Regions from separate parts of the Homo sapiens genome. Here region 2 is linked to region 1. The links come from fine-mapping of genetic effects on gene expression. Tissue or cell type: whole blood. Region 1 holds a variant in brackets; the other region holds the start of a gene. All regions are shown on one strand. Distances are between the middles of the regions.

Region 1 (8,105 bases):
GGCTCCCATAGTCCTCTCAACCCTGAGTGTCTGTTCATTTCATATGCATCTTAAAATGTTCTGTATGTGCAGAATAGTTTATATATCATATGTGAGCAAGAAAAAGTATTTTATGTTTGTATTTATAAATATCATTATGTGTCACTTAATAAGGGGGATATGTTCTGAGAAATGCATCATTAGTGATTTCCTTGTTGTGTGAACATCACAGAGTGTGCTTCCACAAACGTAGGTGGTACAGCCTCCTACATACATAGCCTATATGGTAGAGCCTATTGCTCCTAGGCTACAAACCTATACAGCATGTGACTGTACTGGATACTGTAGGCAGCTGTAACACAATGACAAATATGTGTGTATCTAAATATATGGAAACAGAAAGGGTATACAGTAAAAAATACAGTATTATAGTCTTATGGGACCACCATCCGATATGCAGCTGTCGTTGACTGAACATCATATGACTTTACATGGAATTGTTCTTAGAACCTGATAACTGGGTCTTCTCCAGGGTAGGAAATGCTGTGTGTAGAGACAGAGGTTGCAGGGAGATTGCGAGGGGTACAATATTCTGTTGTACCCTTTGAAGTACCATGTAAACATATGATCTATTTAAGCAAAATTTTTAAAATATGAAAGCATGGCTGGGCGCGGTGGCTCATGCCTGTAATCCCAGCACTTTGGGAGGCCAAGGCGGGTGGATCACTTGAAGTCAGAAGTTCGAAACCAGCCTGGCCAACATAGTGAAACCTCATCTCTACTAAAAATACAAAAATTAACTGGGCGTGGTGGTGCATGCCTGTAATCCCAGCTACTCATGAGGCCGAGGCAGGAGAATCACTTGAACCCAGGAGGTGGAGATTGCAATGGGCTGAGATCACACCACTGCACTCCGGCTTGGGCAATAAAAGTGAAACTCCATCTCAAAAAATATATATATAAAATATATATGTATGTAATATATAATATATATTATATAATATATGTAATATATTATATATTATATAAATATATACTATATTATATATAATAATATAGTATATAATATATAAAATATATATTATATATCATGTATGATATATATGATATACATATACATATATACATATACATATACATATACATGATATACAATATACATATCACATAATATACATTATATATAATATGTATGCAATATGTAATATGTATATATTATATATGTATATAATACGTTATGTGATATGTATATAATATATTATATGATATGTATATAATATACAATATGTATATATGTATTATATATACAATATGTGTATATGTATTATATATACAATATGTATATAATATATATATGAAAGCATTTTTGCTTTCCAGTAACAGAAGTTTACCACATCCATTGTTGGTTTACTCTTCAGTTTTGCCTTCCAGCACCTTGTTCTTTGGTCCAAAGCCAGAGTGGTGAAGGAAAGGGTGACAGACTTGCATTCCCTCCCCCACTGCAGGACTTAGAACCTTTCTGTGACCCAGGCCTCCCAGCTGGAAAACGAGGAGAGTGGCATTTGCCACATTCCCCACAGGGGTAGCATTGAGAACTGGCTATCTGCTGGTAAAGGATTTCCGGATCTGTGAATAAAAGGGAATATATTAACACAAAATACTCTTGCTTTTTAACCCCACATAGTTCTAAGGAAATCTAATATAAAGGCTTGGGATCCACTTACAGTTGCTGTACTAGAGGTGAATGTTAATTAGTGACATTGACAATCGTCATTTTCTCTGTAAACCTACTTGGTGACTGGAAGCTGCAGGAATCTTGCTATATGAGCCTTCTGTCTTTGAACAACAAAGTGTCAGTCTGACCGTCCTGAAACAGACAAGAAAGCTGCCCACCTCAATTACAGGCCTCAGCTGAGAATCAGGGTTTGGTGTCCACACAGTCTCTCTAGATTGCCTGGCTGGCTGGGTCCAGTGACTGTGTCTTATCTTTCAGCGAGGCTCCCTGCTTCCTCTCTCCAGTGCCCTCTTCCAGGGTGGGATGCACAGAAGGCATTTAATAAATGATGACTGAGCCTGTGGCTGGCTACCTGCCTGCTTTCAGGAGTGGCCCCGCTTTATAGATGGGGAAACAGAGGCACACAGAAGTGCAGTACTTTGCTTGAGTTCCTTGTTGGAATCCCTGGTTCAGGCAGGAGTCTCATTTCAACCCCTAATGTTCATCTCTTCTATTCTCTGAACAGAGAGTGCTTGAGAAGTTCCAGCATTTCCATCTTCAAAGTCAAGAAATAGAAGAAGCAGTTGTAAAACAAGACCTGAACCTAGACAATCTGGGTAGATGACAAAGCCACCGTCCTTCCCCAGGCCTCAGTGTCCCCATCTATAAAATAATGGTTTGGACAGGATGATCTCTCAGGTCCCTTTACGTTTCCTATGGGCTGTGTATACCGCCCTGCGTTCACTAGCCAATTGAGGCCATTCTTCTTGTTATTTCTTTACCTCCTTGAGTTTCTCAGGAGTTTCAAGGGGGCGCTGTGAAACTGGTTACTGGGCAGCCAGCAGGCCTTTCCTTGGAGCTGCCTGGCTGCTTGGTTTCCCTGCTGGTAACCAAGCCCTTGTCTGTCTTTCCAGCAACCCAGCCCTTTTCTTATTGTTGCTGTCTGTTTCCATTTGTTCCTTTTATTCTCCAGGTTTTCCTTGACTCTGATGTTTTTCCCCCTGCTGCACAACAAGCCCTTCTGATCTCTGTGAAAGGCAAACCCGTGTCATTCTTCCAAATCATCATTGTATGACATGTTTTTATATCAGCCGGACAAAGGAGCTATTTGATCAGGGGGTATGGTGTGTGATTGTAAGAAATTCAGCTAGTCGGTGGCAACCATTGTTCCCCAAGCGGCTCCCTGACCCCATTCTGTTCCTGGAAAAACTCCCTGAGAGTGGCCTCTATTCATGGAGTAACACCAGTCCCCAGCCGCGCTCCAGGAGCATGCTCAATTCCTAGCAGTGTCACCGATAGCTGCCCGAAGCCACCCTTTAACTCTTTCATCAGCATTAAGTTTCCAACCCCACAGCTGTTATCACGGCCATGAGCTCAGGGGGTTAGAGATACAGGCATGCTCTCTGCTCTCCCTCTTATCTTGGAGAAATTCAACCTTCCTTTGAAATGGTCATTTGGAAATTACCCGTCTGCTGCTTTCAGCGCAGCAGGCCTGGCTAGCACGCCTGTCCTCCTCGGTTTTCCCCTGAGGACAGCCTTCCAGCACTGCCAACTCCCAGGCCCTGCTGCTCGGTGGCCTCCCTCCTGGTATGGAATCTAGTGGCACCTCAAAACCATTTCTGATTGCCTGAGGTAGAAGTGTGAGGCCCCTCACCCTAGCCTCAGAGTCCTTGCCAGATCGTTCTGGAAATGAGGAAATACTTCCACACACTAATGAATGTTACTTAGTCAGGCTTCTTTCTTTTTTGCAATACACACTGGGCCCCTATATGTGTAAGGCCTTGTGTCAGGTATTGTAGGACAGACAGAATTGTATAAAAATTGGCCCTTGGCCCTAGGAACTCCATCCATTAGAAGAAATGAAACAAGTAGGCCGGGCATGGTGGCTCACGCCTGTAATCCCAGCACTTTGGGAGGCAGAGGCGGGCGGATCATGAGGTCAGGAGATCGAGACCACCCTGGCTAACACAGTGAAACCCCGCCTCTACTAAAAATACAAAAAATTAGCTGGGCGTGGTGGCGGGCGCCTGTAGTCGCAGCTACTCGGGAGGCTGAGGCAGGAGAATGGCTTGAACCCGGGAGGCGGAGCTTGCAGTGAGCCGAGATCGCGCCACTGCACTCCAGCCTGGGCGACAGAGCGAGACTCCGTCTCAAAAACAAACAAAAAAAAGAAATGAAACAAGTAGACATGAATCTGTAGAAACATCCATAACATTTTA[A/C]TACTGAGTGATTCTTTGAAGTGTCTTAACACCTAATGATGGCATTGGGATTTTTCTCTTTGTCCCTGTGTTCTTTTTTTTTTTTTTTTTTTTTTGAGATGGAGTTTCGCTCTTGTTGCCCAGGCTAGAGTGCAATGGCGCGATCTTGGCTCACTGCAACCTCCGCCTCCTGGGTTCAAGCGATTCTCCTACCTCAGCCTCCCGAGTAGCTGGGCTTACAGGCATGCACCACCACGCCCAGCTAATTTTTTTGCATTTTTAGTAGAGACAGGGTTTCTCCATGTTGGTCAGGCTGGTCTCGAACTCCCGACTTCAGGTGATCCACCCACCTTGGCCTCCCAAAGTGCTAGGATTACAAGCGTGAGCCACCACACCCAGCCTCCTGTGTTCATTTTACAGAGACTAGAAAAAGTAAAGGGACCTAAATCACTCAAAGCCAGTAGCTGAGCAAAGGCTCAAATGTAGAGTCTCTGATTCATTTTTCTCCTGGTTCATTCTATTAATTCATTGACTGCTCCTTTGCTCCAAGAAGCTGGCAGTAGATTAGACTGTTGTCATTTGTCTGTAACTACTATCAGGAAGACAAGACCTCAAAGCTAATACAAAATTCCAACACAAGAGTCTAGAATCCTAAATCAGGCTCCTTGGCCTCATCCCCACACCAGTGTTTCTGTGCCTTGAGTCAACAGAATGGCCTCTCCAGTAAGAGAATCTCAGCCTGGCTTCCCTATCTCAATTCCTCCTTGGCTCCAGGGAAACACCCACAATATAACAGATAAAATATTAAGGTCTATACACAGAGTGGCTGAAAAATTTATTGTCCTGTGTACTGATTCATGCTACAACATGGATGAACCTTGAAAACATTATGCTGAGTGAAAGAAGCCTGACTCAAAAGGCTGCATGTTGTATAATTTTATTTGTATGTCTAGAATAAGTAAATCCATAAAGACAGAAAATAGCAGTTGCCAGGGGCTGGGGAGCCAGGGAATAGGGAGTGACTACTAATGGATACAGGGTTTCTTGTAGGGTAAAGAAAATGTTCTGGCCCGGCGTGGCGGCTCACGCCTGTCATCCTAGCACCTTGGGAGGCTGAGATGAGAGGATCGCTTGAGCTCAGGAGTTCAAGATCAACCTGGACAACATAGTGAGACCTCGACTCTCCTAAAAATTTAAAAAAAAAAAAAAATTAGCTGGGCATGGTGGCTTGCGCCTGTAGTCCCAGCTACTCAGGAGGCCAAGGCGGGAGGATCATTTGAGCCTGGGAGGTAGAGACTGCAGTGAGCCATGATCACGCCACTGTACTCTCACCTGGGCAACAGAGTAACCCCGTCTCAAAAATAAATAAATAAATAAATAAATAAATAAATAAATAAATGAAAATGTTCTGGAATTAAATAATACTGTTGATTGTAAAAGTTTCTCAGTATACTAAAAGTATGAATTATGTACTTTAAAGGGGTAAATTTTGTGGTATGTGAATTATATCTCAACAACAAAAATGGAAAAGATGGAGGAAAAAAATACCACCTAAAAAAAAGTTTGTCATCCAAACCAGGACTGAGGCACTGTTTTTTTTTGAGACAGGGTCTCACTCTGCTCCCTAGGCTGGAGTACAGTGACCCAAACATGGCGCACTGCAGCCTCGACCTCTGAGACTCAGGCAGTCCTCCCACTTTGACACTTTTGAAGTATTAATAATCACCCTGGGAAAATATGTATAAACCATATGGTGACTCTAGCTAAGGACAATGAATGAGAGCTCTGTGTGCAATCTCTGTGTGCCACCTGTCTTTACATCTTCTCTAAGGAGCTTAAGCAATAGCCTACCCAGCCAAGAATTCTGTGGCCACTGGTGGCCCTAGGGACCACGTGTATTGGTACTCTCAGCTCTCCTTGGCTCTTCTGCTCCCAAATTCCCTATGTCATTTGGGATTCTACTTCCCAAATAGGACCTCCTTTTTTGTAATGAGCTTTAAAGATTTACTCTACTCTGACATACATTGGACCTCTGCCTAATCATCGGATTTCCATTCCTTCCTTCCTTCCTTCCTTCCTTCATTCTTTCATTCTTCCATCAGTCAATTATGTAGTCTCTACTGGTACCAGGCAGTCGGGCAGTGTAGCAGCTGAGGAATACAGATGGATAAGTTACGTTTTCTTCCCTCAAGAAATTCACTTTCTATTAAGAAGATCGACATTTTAAATAGAAGGCAGTGAAGACACTTCCGAGCTAGAAGTATGTATTGGGTACAAGAAGGCCCAAAAAAGGGGGAGGTCGGCTTTTCCTGAAGGTGGGACTTTCCCCATGCCCACCTCTGGACATTCCAGAGAGATTGATAGGACCTAATTTGGCATCCCACAAGAGGAGAGGAGAATGCTTTCTCTGTCTTTGGTTGCCTCTCCCATTCCCATGCTCCTCTCCCATTTGGTGGCTGCTCTTAAGTGGCCTCTCACTCCCCCCAGCACACTGGGACGCTGCCACTGACTGGCATCTCTGGAGCCTCTTTCCTGGAGGCTCAGATTCCCATCCTCTGGGTGTTGTCTGGCCCTTTTCTTCCTAAGTGCATTGTGTTCTTGCCCATTTTCCTGCCCACTTACAAAGGCTTATACGGTTAAGCCCTTTGCCCAAGGTCACAGCTGGTTAGTAACAAAAGCCAGGCTAGAACCTGGGTTCAACCCTCAAAGTGAAGTCCTTCTGAGCTTCCAATGAAGGGTTTTATTTTCCTAACAAACTGCCTTGTAACCTGAAGAGGTGAACCCCAGCCAATCTCAGACCCACTTTTTTTTTTTTTTTTTGCTAATTTAGCTGCACCTTGGCCATTCCAGGGGTGGCAGAGTTCATAAGCAGTAAGTAAATGATTAGTAACCCCCCCACCCCACCAAGGGTGCAGGTCAAGATCTCAGCACAAAGATCAGGTTGGAACTTCTGATCTCTCCCAGCCTGTCTGGGTAATCCCAGTCCCCCTGCCATACAGTTTGGGACCCATCTGACAATGGAGTTTCCAAGACTGGGCAGAAGGAGCAATGGGATTTGGTTCTCCCATGATATAGAAGAAAAAGTTCACACTTCGATAATTCAGAGTCAGAAAAGCTTAGGGGTTAAAAACCTGGATTTGAAAGGCCAACAGATCTGGATTTATTTATTTAGAGACAAGGTCTCGCTCTGTCATCCAGTGGACTCAAGTGATCCTCTCACCTGAGTCTCCCAAGTAGCTGGGACTACAGGTGCACACCACCTCTCCCAGGTAATTTTTTATTTTTTGTAGAGACGGGGTCTCACTTTGTTGCCCAGAGTGGTCTTGAACTCCTGGCCTCAAGTGATTCTCCCACCTTGGCCTCCCAAAATGCTGGGACTGCAAGTGTGAGCCACTGTGCCTGGCCCAGATCTGGATTTAAATCCTAGCTGTAAAACTTTGGAAGGAAGAAATTCCTTTGCTTTTCTGAACCTCAGTCTCCCCAATGTAAAATGAAGATAATGTATTCAGGGGAAAAAACCCTCATGAAGGTAATAACTACCTCATAGTACTATTATGAGGATGAGATGAGATGAAGTGTACCAAGGCTTAGAACAACTCTAGTAGACAGTAAGCACTTAATAAATGGTATGTAGCTTTTGTTGTTGTTATCTTTTCTCAAACTATCTCTAATCTTAGAAGGGTCCAGAACTCTGGGGACTGGTTGGCCAAGTTTCCCCAGATAATGTTTGCAGCCCTCTTATTTGCCCCATAATGGCAACTTCATTCATTAATTTACCAAAATTTATAAAGCACCTACTATATTCCAAGGCTACTTGAAACATTATAGTTACAAATAAGAAGTTACAACTCACTGTTGTAAATAGAATAATGTATAAGCCCAGAGGATTGCCTGGGAGACATAATAGAGGGTAGAAAAGTTTAGGTCTCGAAGGGTATGTAGGAGTTCACTAGGCAGAGGGAGCAGCACATGAAAAAACAAATGCATGGAAAAGCATGTAGCATTTGGGAAATGTTAAAAAGTTCTGCATCACTAGAACCTTCCACAAAAGAGGAAGGAAGCCAAGCACTGTGGCTCACACCTGTAATTCCAGCTAGTTGAGAGATCAGACGGGAGCATCACTGGAGTCCAGGAGTTCTGGGCTCCTGCAATATAGCTGCCTCTGTCTCAGAAAAAAAAAAAAAAAAAAAAAAAGTGGTGTCGGGCATGGTGGC
Region 2 (8,086 bases), 67 kb after region 1:
GCAGGTAGATCACTTGAGGTCAGGAGTTCCAGACCCAGCCTGGCCAACATGGTGAAACCATGTCTCTACTAAAAATACAAAAATTAGCCAGGTATGGTGGCAAATGCCTGTAATCCCAGCTATTTGGGAGGCTGAGAAACAACAATCACTTGAACCTGGGAGACGGACTTGCAGTGAGCCGAGACTGCGTCACTGCACTACAGCCTGGGCTACAGAGCAAGACTCCATCTCAAACAACAACAACAAAAGGGTGAGGGGAGATAAACAGGTAAAGCAATTAAAAACAAATCAGAGATAGGATTAGGAAAGAATCTGACTTAATTTTATGATCGTGCTCCTCTTTTTTAAAAAAAGTTCCTGGCCAGGACTGGAATTCCAGTTACTTGGGAGGCTAGGGCAGGAGAACTGCTTGAATCCAGGAGGCGGAGGCTGCGGTGAGCCAAGATCCGCGCCATTGCATTCCAGCCTAGGTGACAGAGCAAAACTCTCTCTCTCAAAAAAAGTTCCACATACAATGATATAATCAAAGGGACCAAAAAATGCCTGAAACCACATTCCCAAGAAATTCAACAGCCTAACTGGCCCAAACAACAAACTCTCACGCAATCTTAATTACAGAGCAAAGATCTGAACAAATGAAAATTCAAGAATATTACTTCTGGTCCTTAAACGGAAAGGAATAAACAAAGAAAACTCAAGAATGTCCCCAGAGTATCCTCTAAGAGGACAAAACACTAGTTATGCACACACTGCAGAAAACAAACTCGCAGACCGATAACCTAAATGGTTGAATAAGCATCAAACTGGTATCTGGAACTCCCTAGTGTGCTCATCACAGCTCAAACCACACACTTTACATCTTGTCTAACCTTTACTTTCCACTTGTCTCAGTCTAATCATCAGTAAGAGATAAGGACAGCCTCTCAAGAGTACCATGAAGAAGGTTAATAAAAGCATTCTGAACACAAAATGTTCTACATAAACCCACACAATCTACATAAGAGACTAGTCTAAAACAAATTTCTGCAATGTATTTTAGCTCCAATCTCTAGGCAGAATGACTCCTCTGCACCACAAAAAGGACAATGACAGACCAAATTAAAATTCATTACATACCAATGTATAACTGTAGCACTTTCATCTGGACAATCTAATGTTAGCCTCTCACAAGTGATACAAAATATTCTTTTTTTTTTTTCTCAGGCGGAATCTCACTCTGTCGCCCAGGCTGGAGTGCAGTGGCACTATCTCGGCTCAATGCAATCTACGCCTCCAACTCCCGGGTTCAAGCGATTCTCCTGTCTCAGCCTCCCGAGTAGTTGGGATTACAGGAGCCCGCCACCACGCCCGGCTAATTTTTTCTATTTTTAGTAGAGACAGGGTTTCGCCATGTTGGCCAGGCTAGTATCGATCTCCTGACCTCGTGATCCGCCCGCCTCGGCCTCCCAAAGTGCTGGGATTACAGGCGTGAGCCACCGCGCCCGGCCAATATAAAATATTCTTGATCAGGCAGACCTATACAAGTCTTTAGCATCCCTACGGCACTTAGCATTATCATTTTTTTTTTAAGGAGTAGGCATTAAACATCCTTTCAGAGTTGCTCCAATATAAAAAAAGACTTTTCAAATGTCTAGCTTAATTAAACATTTTAATCTTTAGAAACCCTACCTTGGCTCTTTTGAGAGTCAGGTTCATGGTTTCGGTTGACTGGCACCACAAAGAGGAAGCAATGCTGTTAATGTAAGTTAAAAACCAAGAGAGTTTTGTGATGGAAAGAAAACAAAAAAGAAATCCTAGCAGTAACTATAGTATTTCTATGCTCATTCATTTTACGGCTGGTGCCAACCAAGAGGTATCAAAAAGAGAGAAAAAAAAAAAAAAAAAAAAAAAAAAAGCCAGGCGCGGTAGTTCACGCCTGTAATCTTAGCACTTTGGAAGACCGAGGCGGGCGGACTGCCTGAGCTCCGTAGGTGGAAACCTGCCTGGGCAACACGGTGAAACCCGTTTCTACTAAAATACAAAAAATTAGCCGGGCCCGTGTCTGCAGTCCCAGCTACTTGGGAGGGTGAGGGAGGAGAATTGCTCGAACCCGGGAGGCGGAGGTTGCAGTGAGCCGCGATCACGCCACTGCACTCCAGCCTGGGCGACAGAGCGAGACTCCGTCTCCCAAAACAAAAACAACAAAACACACAAAAAATCAGTGCTGGCTCAGGTGCTCAGTCACTAAGAAAATATACAAGGGCACGGGAGGGAGGAGGAATAAACGAGAGAATGGCAGACAACTCTGTTCTTTAAATAGGAAGAATCGCCTTTTAATGCTATTCTAAACAAACGAATTTAAACCAAATGAGTTTTCTCCTTTTATAACTGAAGGTATAATGGACTGGCAAGTTTCCTTAGACTCATTCCAGTCTAGCTCCGAAATTTCCCAGCACTCTCTCATCCCCACTCCAAGATCTTTGATAACAAAAACCAGATTCTTTTTCTAAAATCTCCCTGCACTCAAGCCAATAAATACAACGATATAAGTCACACAATGCAATCATTTTTGATGAATACTATATAGCAGTTTTCCATTCTGTAATCCCCCAAATTCTGCAAGACAGTTAACTTCGCTGAACTCTTTCATGCCTTACTGTAGCAGCAAAGTAGCCTGTTATGGTCTGTACCATAACCACCACCCATTTTTCGAAAGAATACTCTAATTTATATGGTGAAAAAAAACAGAAAAGCTGATGTTCTCAACGTCGAGAGCAATCCTTTTTCCATACCTTTTTGGTTTTTTAAATATATATATTTTTTACCCTTATCCACGCCATTACATACGAGAGAGATATAAAACAGACATCTAGGAAACTCTGAATCGGCCAAAATACTTCAGAAAATTCAAATACATGCTGTAACTGCGGAAAGACTAATAATGTAACCGATTCGTGCCTCTACAGAGCTGCAAGGTGGACTATCTGTCCATTCTCATCCAGAAACTGAAACAAGCATCTGGTAATTTTCCCTCACTACCAAAAAGTCCATCGTTCTTTTCGACTGTAAATGGGAAAAAAGGCGAGAAGGGCATTTTTAAAGCCGCTTCTGCGGTCACTAAATTCCAATTACGCATCTCAGATACTTCGAGAATCTGTGATTAAAGCCAAAGTTTCATCCCTCGAGAGCAAAGTACAGTAGCTGGGAAAGAGGGCAATTTTCTAAGTTGCAAATGAATCTTTGCGGGGGTGGGGGGAAGCAACAAAAATATTCTAAGCCAAGTGGAACTTGAAATACTATAGGCCAAACGTGCTTCTCTTCACTCCAGAAGTACAAGCACGTCAGTGTGGGCCGATTTTCCACAAAGGGTGGTGACAGAAGCACTACACATATTTTTTCACTGGAACCAGACAACCCTAGGGAATAAGATCCCAAGGTACAAAGAAGTAGAACTCAGAGGCTAACAGAACACCAGGCTCTTAACCACCGCCTCCTTAGGAGGTGGCCTGGCTCCAAGCCCAAGACGGGTGGGGTCAGACTTGTGAGTGGCCAGGGGGGAATTCGACGCCGTCTTAAGACGTGCAAGGAGATTCGCCCAACATCTCGTCTCTCCCCTCGCTTTAGGAGGGCCACATTTCAGACCCAGAGGCTTTCCGGCCTTTTAGAGTCTCCAAAATCCCCGCCACCACCCTCCTCCCGAGGACAGAACGTGTTAGTGCCAAAACGGGGAGGGAAGGAGGGCGCTCACCTTCCACCACACCGCAGAGGAACCGCCGAGCCCCTCCTGCAGCCCCGGCCACCGCCGCTCCCCCAGCCCCGGCGGGGTTGTCTTCTCCGGGTGCCGGAGCTGCCGGCGGCTCCAGCGATGCCCCCGCAGAGGCGGCAGGGTTGGAGCTGAGCTCGCTCTCCCGCTCCTCCAACGTCGCTTGACTCTCCTTCTGCACCATCCTCCTGCCCCCGGCCGCTGCCACCTCTGCGGGTCCTCCTCGACCTCTGTCCGTTGGGGCACCGGCCCGGAGCCCTGGAGAGGGCTTCAGCTCCAAGTGTGCGCCCCTCCGGCTCCTTCCCCTCCCCCTCTGCCCTTCCCCCTCCCTCTCCGCAGGGACCCGAATGCCCGGATGAGAAGGGCGGCGGCACCGGCGCGAGCCCTTTGTCAGCCGCAGCCTCGGCTTTAAGCTGGGGCGCCAGAAGCCTAAGCGGAGAGCGAGGCTGTGACCTCTCGTTCCCTGGAAGAAGACGGCCAAGGGTCCTGTCCTCGTTCTCTGCCTCTGCTGCCCTCCCGATAATCTTAGGTCTTCCGCTGTTTCCCCTCCAAGCCCCGAGCTCTCCCTCTGCTGCTGCCTCCACCGCCCGCTTCCTGTTTATCCGCACTGCGCTTGCGCTGCAGACCGGCTCAGACCGGTCCCCTCCGCCCGGCTCCCCCGCCTTCTTTGGGGCTAGCCTATTAAGCTTCTTTAGGTAGGGGGAAATAGAACAGGAGACGCGAAAAGCAGAAGGTAATGAAGGCAGTGGAATGTACCATTTCTGCTTGCCACCCTCCGAAACAAGCCTGGCACCCTGGGACGGACGGACCATTACCCGCCCCGAAGGAGGGGAGTATGGGAGGAGGCTGCCGCCGGTTGGGGCAATAGGGAGAAGGGGGGAAGGTGAAAAGGAGAGGTGTTTATTCTCTCAGTGCGCAGGCGCGGAGCCGCGGCCTCTCGTTCTTAAAGAGATAGGAAAGAACTGACCTACTTTCTATGGAGATTCTTGTAATAGGTGGGCTCATTACATCTGCCTAACCCAGGCTTGGTTCGGTAAAGACACCATTCCAAGGAGCTCAGCTCACCCCTCTGCCTTGAATCATTTTCCCCTAATCCCATTTAAAATGTAATCATTCGTTCATTCCTTCATTCAGTAGACATCTATAGAGCTTGCCTCGTGCTGGGCTCTAGAACACTATGAGCTCACAGTACGGTGGTGGAGACAAGCCACCACACACGCAGTTCCCACAAGGTGTCCCCAAGAACTTCGGAGCTCAGAACAGGTGATACTCACTCCTCCTTTGGGGAGAGGCCGTGGGCATGGCTTCACTTTTCAGCTGGATTATAAAGGATGTGAAGTTAGCCTGACTGAGCAGAAGGGGAGGGAAGACAGCACTCCAGGAAAGTGGAACGAACAACAGAGTCCAAAGGTAGGGAGGCATGAAAAGCCTGCCTTGTTTGGGAATGGGGAGCGCGCGGTGTGTGCAGTGGGGCATGAGATCCCTTCGGCCTCGGCATGGGCATCGCTTCCTTGGGAAGCCTTCCCTGAGCCCTAGATGGGTTTGGGTCTCCTTGCTGTATGTTCTCAGAGCTCTCTTGTAGACCTACCCTAATGCACTTTACATTTATGATGCTTGAGAAATCTATCTCAACCTGTGAGGTATAAACATGAAATGATGATTAAGACTTAGTAATGTCCATCTTACACTTCAGTCTGATATTTACCTTCTTTAGCCGTAGCCCAACTTGTAGTTTCAGGGACTTTCATGGTCCCTCTTCTTTTCAGTCCTGGATTGTTGAGATGGGGGTTAGGAGCAAACTTTTTTTTTTTTTTTGAGACAGAGTTTCACTCTGTCGCCCAGGCTGGAGCGCAGGAGCGCAGTGGCGCAATCTCGGCTCACTGCAGCCTTCACCTCCTGGGCTCAGGCTATTCTCCTGCCTCAACCTCTCGAGTAGCTGAGACTACAGGCACCCGCCACCACACCCGGCTAATTTTGTGTTTTTAATAGAGACGGGGTTTCGCCACGTTGACTAGGCTAGTCTTGAACTCCTGACCTCAGGTGATCCACCTGCCTCGGCCTCCCAAAGTGCTGGGATTACAGGTGTGAGCCACCGCGCCCGGCCGGACAAGCATTTTCTTAAGGGACCTCCTGTGCTGAGAGTTAGGGGCCATAGCAGCTTTACTGGATATTGTGGTCCGTTGGGGTTGAGAACACAATTTTTTTTTTTTTTTTTTTTTTGTAAGAGAAGAGGTCTCATTTTGCCACGCAGGCTAGTGCAATCATAGCTTAAGTATCGAATTCCTGGGCTCTCAAGGGATCTTCCCGCCTTAGCCATCCCGAGTAGCTGGGACTATAGGCGAGTGCCCGCCACCACACTCTTTTAATTTGTTCATTTTTGGTAGAGACGGGGGTCTCAACATCTTGCCCAAGCTGGTCTCAAACTCTTGGGCTCAGGTGATCCTCCAGTCTCAGCCTCCCAAAGTGCTGGGATTACAGACACGTGCCACCTCACCTGGCCGAAAAGAACTTTTATCTGAGGAATGAGAGTCCTTTTAAATTATCAGGCCCAGATGGCTGGGCGCAGTGTTGGTGTTTGCAACCAGCCTGGGCAATATTGCCAGACCCAGTCTTTATAAAAAAATAAAAATAGGCCGGGCGTGGTGGCTCACACCTGTAATCCCAGCACTTTGGGAGGCCGAGGCAGATGGATCACCTGAGGTCGGGAGTTCGAGACCAGCCTGACCAACATGGAGAAACCCCGTTTCTACTAAAAATACAAAATTAGCTGGGCATGGTGGCAGATGCCTGTAATCCCAGCTACTCGGGAGGCTGAGGCAGGAGAATCACTTGAACCCGGGTTGCGTGAGCCGAGATCGTGCCATTGCACTCCAACCTGGGCAACAAAAGCTAAACTCCATCTCAAAAAAAAAACAAAAAAAAAAAAAAAAAAAAAAAGCCAGGCGTAGTGGTGTGCACCTGTAGTGCTAGGATCTCACCACTGCACTCCAGCCTGAGCCACAGAACAAGACCCTGCCTCTAAAAAAAAAAAAATTAAAAAATAAATAAATCTTTAAAAATTAAAAATAAATAAATAGGCCCAGCGAGGCATTAAAATGACAGAATCAGCCGGGCTCAGTGGCTCACGCCTGTAATCCCAGCACTTTGAGAGGCCAAGGCGGGCAGAAAGTCAGGAGTTCAAGAATAGCCTGGCCATCATGTTGAAACTCCGTCTCTACTAAAACTACAAACAATAGCTGGGCATGGTGGTGCGCGCCTGTAATCCCAGCTATTTGGGAGGCTGAGGCAGGAGAATCACTTGAACCTGGGAGGCAGAGGTTGCAGTGAGCCAAGATCGTGCCACTGCCCTCCAGCCAGGGCAACAGAGTGAGACTCAGTCTCAAAAAAAAAAAAAAAGAAAAGAAAATGACAGAATCACATCCTATGCCTCCCTCCTTTGAGCTATGTATTCATCTCTTGACACTGCTTGCTCTTGCCACAAGTAGCTATAAATTAACCTAATAATGTTGTACTGGACATTCTAACACACACCCTATAGTTTAACAATGTATAGCCAATCAATAGCTTATGTTATTTTAATGTAAACTGTTGGTAAATAACTCAGGAACTGCCTCTTCTTTCCCTATAAAAATCCACTTGTAACTGCTGCTAATCAGAGTGTCTATTTAGGGCAACTTGAATCTATGCTCTTTCGTTGCAATCCTCAAGCTTATAATAAACTCTCTACTTGTATTCATTTTGCCTCAGCTTCTTCCTTATAGGTTGACAGGAGATTTGGGGGCTGTCATTCTGGCTGATGTCCTTAGTCTCATGACATTTTCCTCTTTGCCTTAATCACTGCCAGCAAGTCAGCAGCCACAATTTCTCCTACTTTCCATAGTCCAGTCTCATAGGGAAGGTTTGCCCCATTTCTGTGTCCCTCAAATTTGAAGAGTGGTTCTTGCCACATAACTGCTATACACTTTCTCACCATACCACACCTCTCTCCACCCACCCCCAACACCTACAACAGTAACAGTGCTTAGTAGACCTATGATGAATATTTGCGGAATGAATGAGATAGGGCCCTGCCCTCACAGATTTTACATTCTGTTTGGAGAACCAGACAATAACAAATTCAGTACACACATAGGAACTCACAGTTTGTGGTAAGGGCTATTAAGGGAAGAAACCTGCCAACTGCATCAAGGAGGAGCTACTTCAGATGGACAAATAGGAAGGAGTAATTTAGGTGAGTAGCAATAGTGGCTTGGGCTAGGAAACAGCATCAGAGAGAGAGAGGTGGTGTACCTTTGGTGGTAGAATTGGTGATTGATTAAATGGGGGTGGAGGGAGAATGAAGGA

The links. PIP is the estimated chance that this variant, and not a neighbour inherited with it, causes the effect.
Region 2: it holds the start of KCNIP2-AS1, and the variant in region 1 is fine-mapped to the expression of KCNIP2-AS1 in whole blood (INTERVAL, PIP 0.98).

Annotation. Positions count from the first base shown.
Region 1 is chr10:101,746,724-101,754,828 of GRCh38, forward strand. The region is part of intron 2 of LOC105378458 (a long non-coding RNA gene); the gene reads right to left. Among named protein-coding and RNA genes, the nearest start is that of LINC03046, 21 kb to the left of the region's middle. The variant A/C (reference allele first, on the strand shown) is at 3,913.
Region 2 is chr10:101,814,097-101,822,182 of GRCh38, forward strand. KCNIP2-AS1 (KCNIP2 antisense RNA 1) reads left to right here and starts at 4,972. Exons shown (of 3, transcript NR_045118.1): 1 at 4,972-5,152. It overlaps OGA (O-GlcNAcase), which reads right to left and starts at 4,348. Exons shown (of 16, transcript NM_012215.5): 1 at 3,728-4,348. The coding sequence starts at 3,926. RefSeq lists enhancers at 3,881-4,456, 4,258-4,377 and silencers at 3,908-3,967, 4,048-4,107.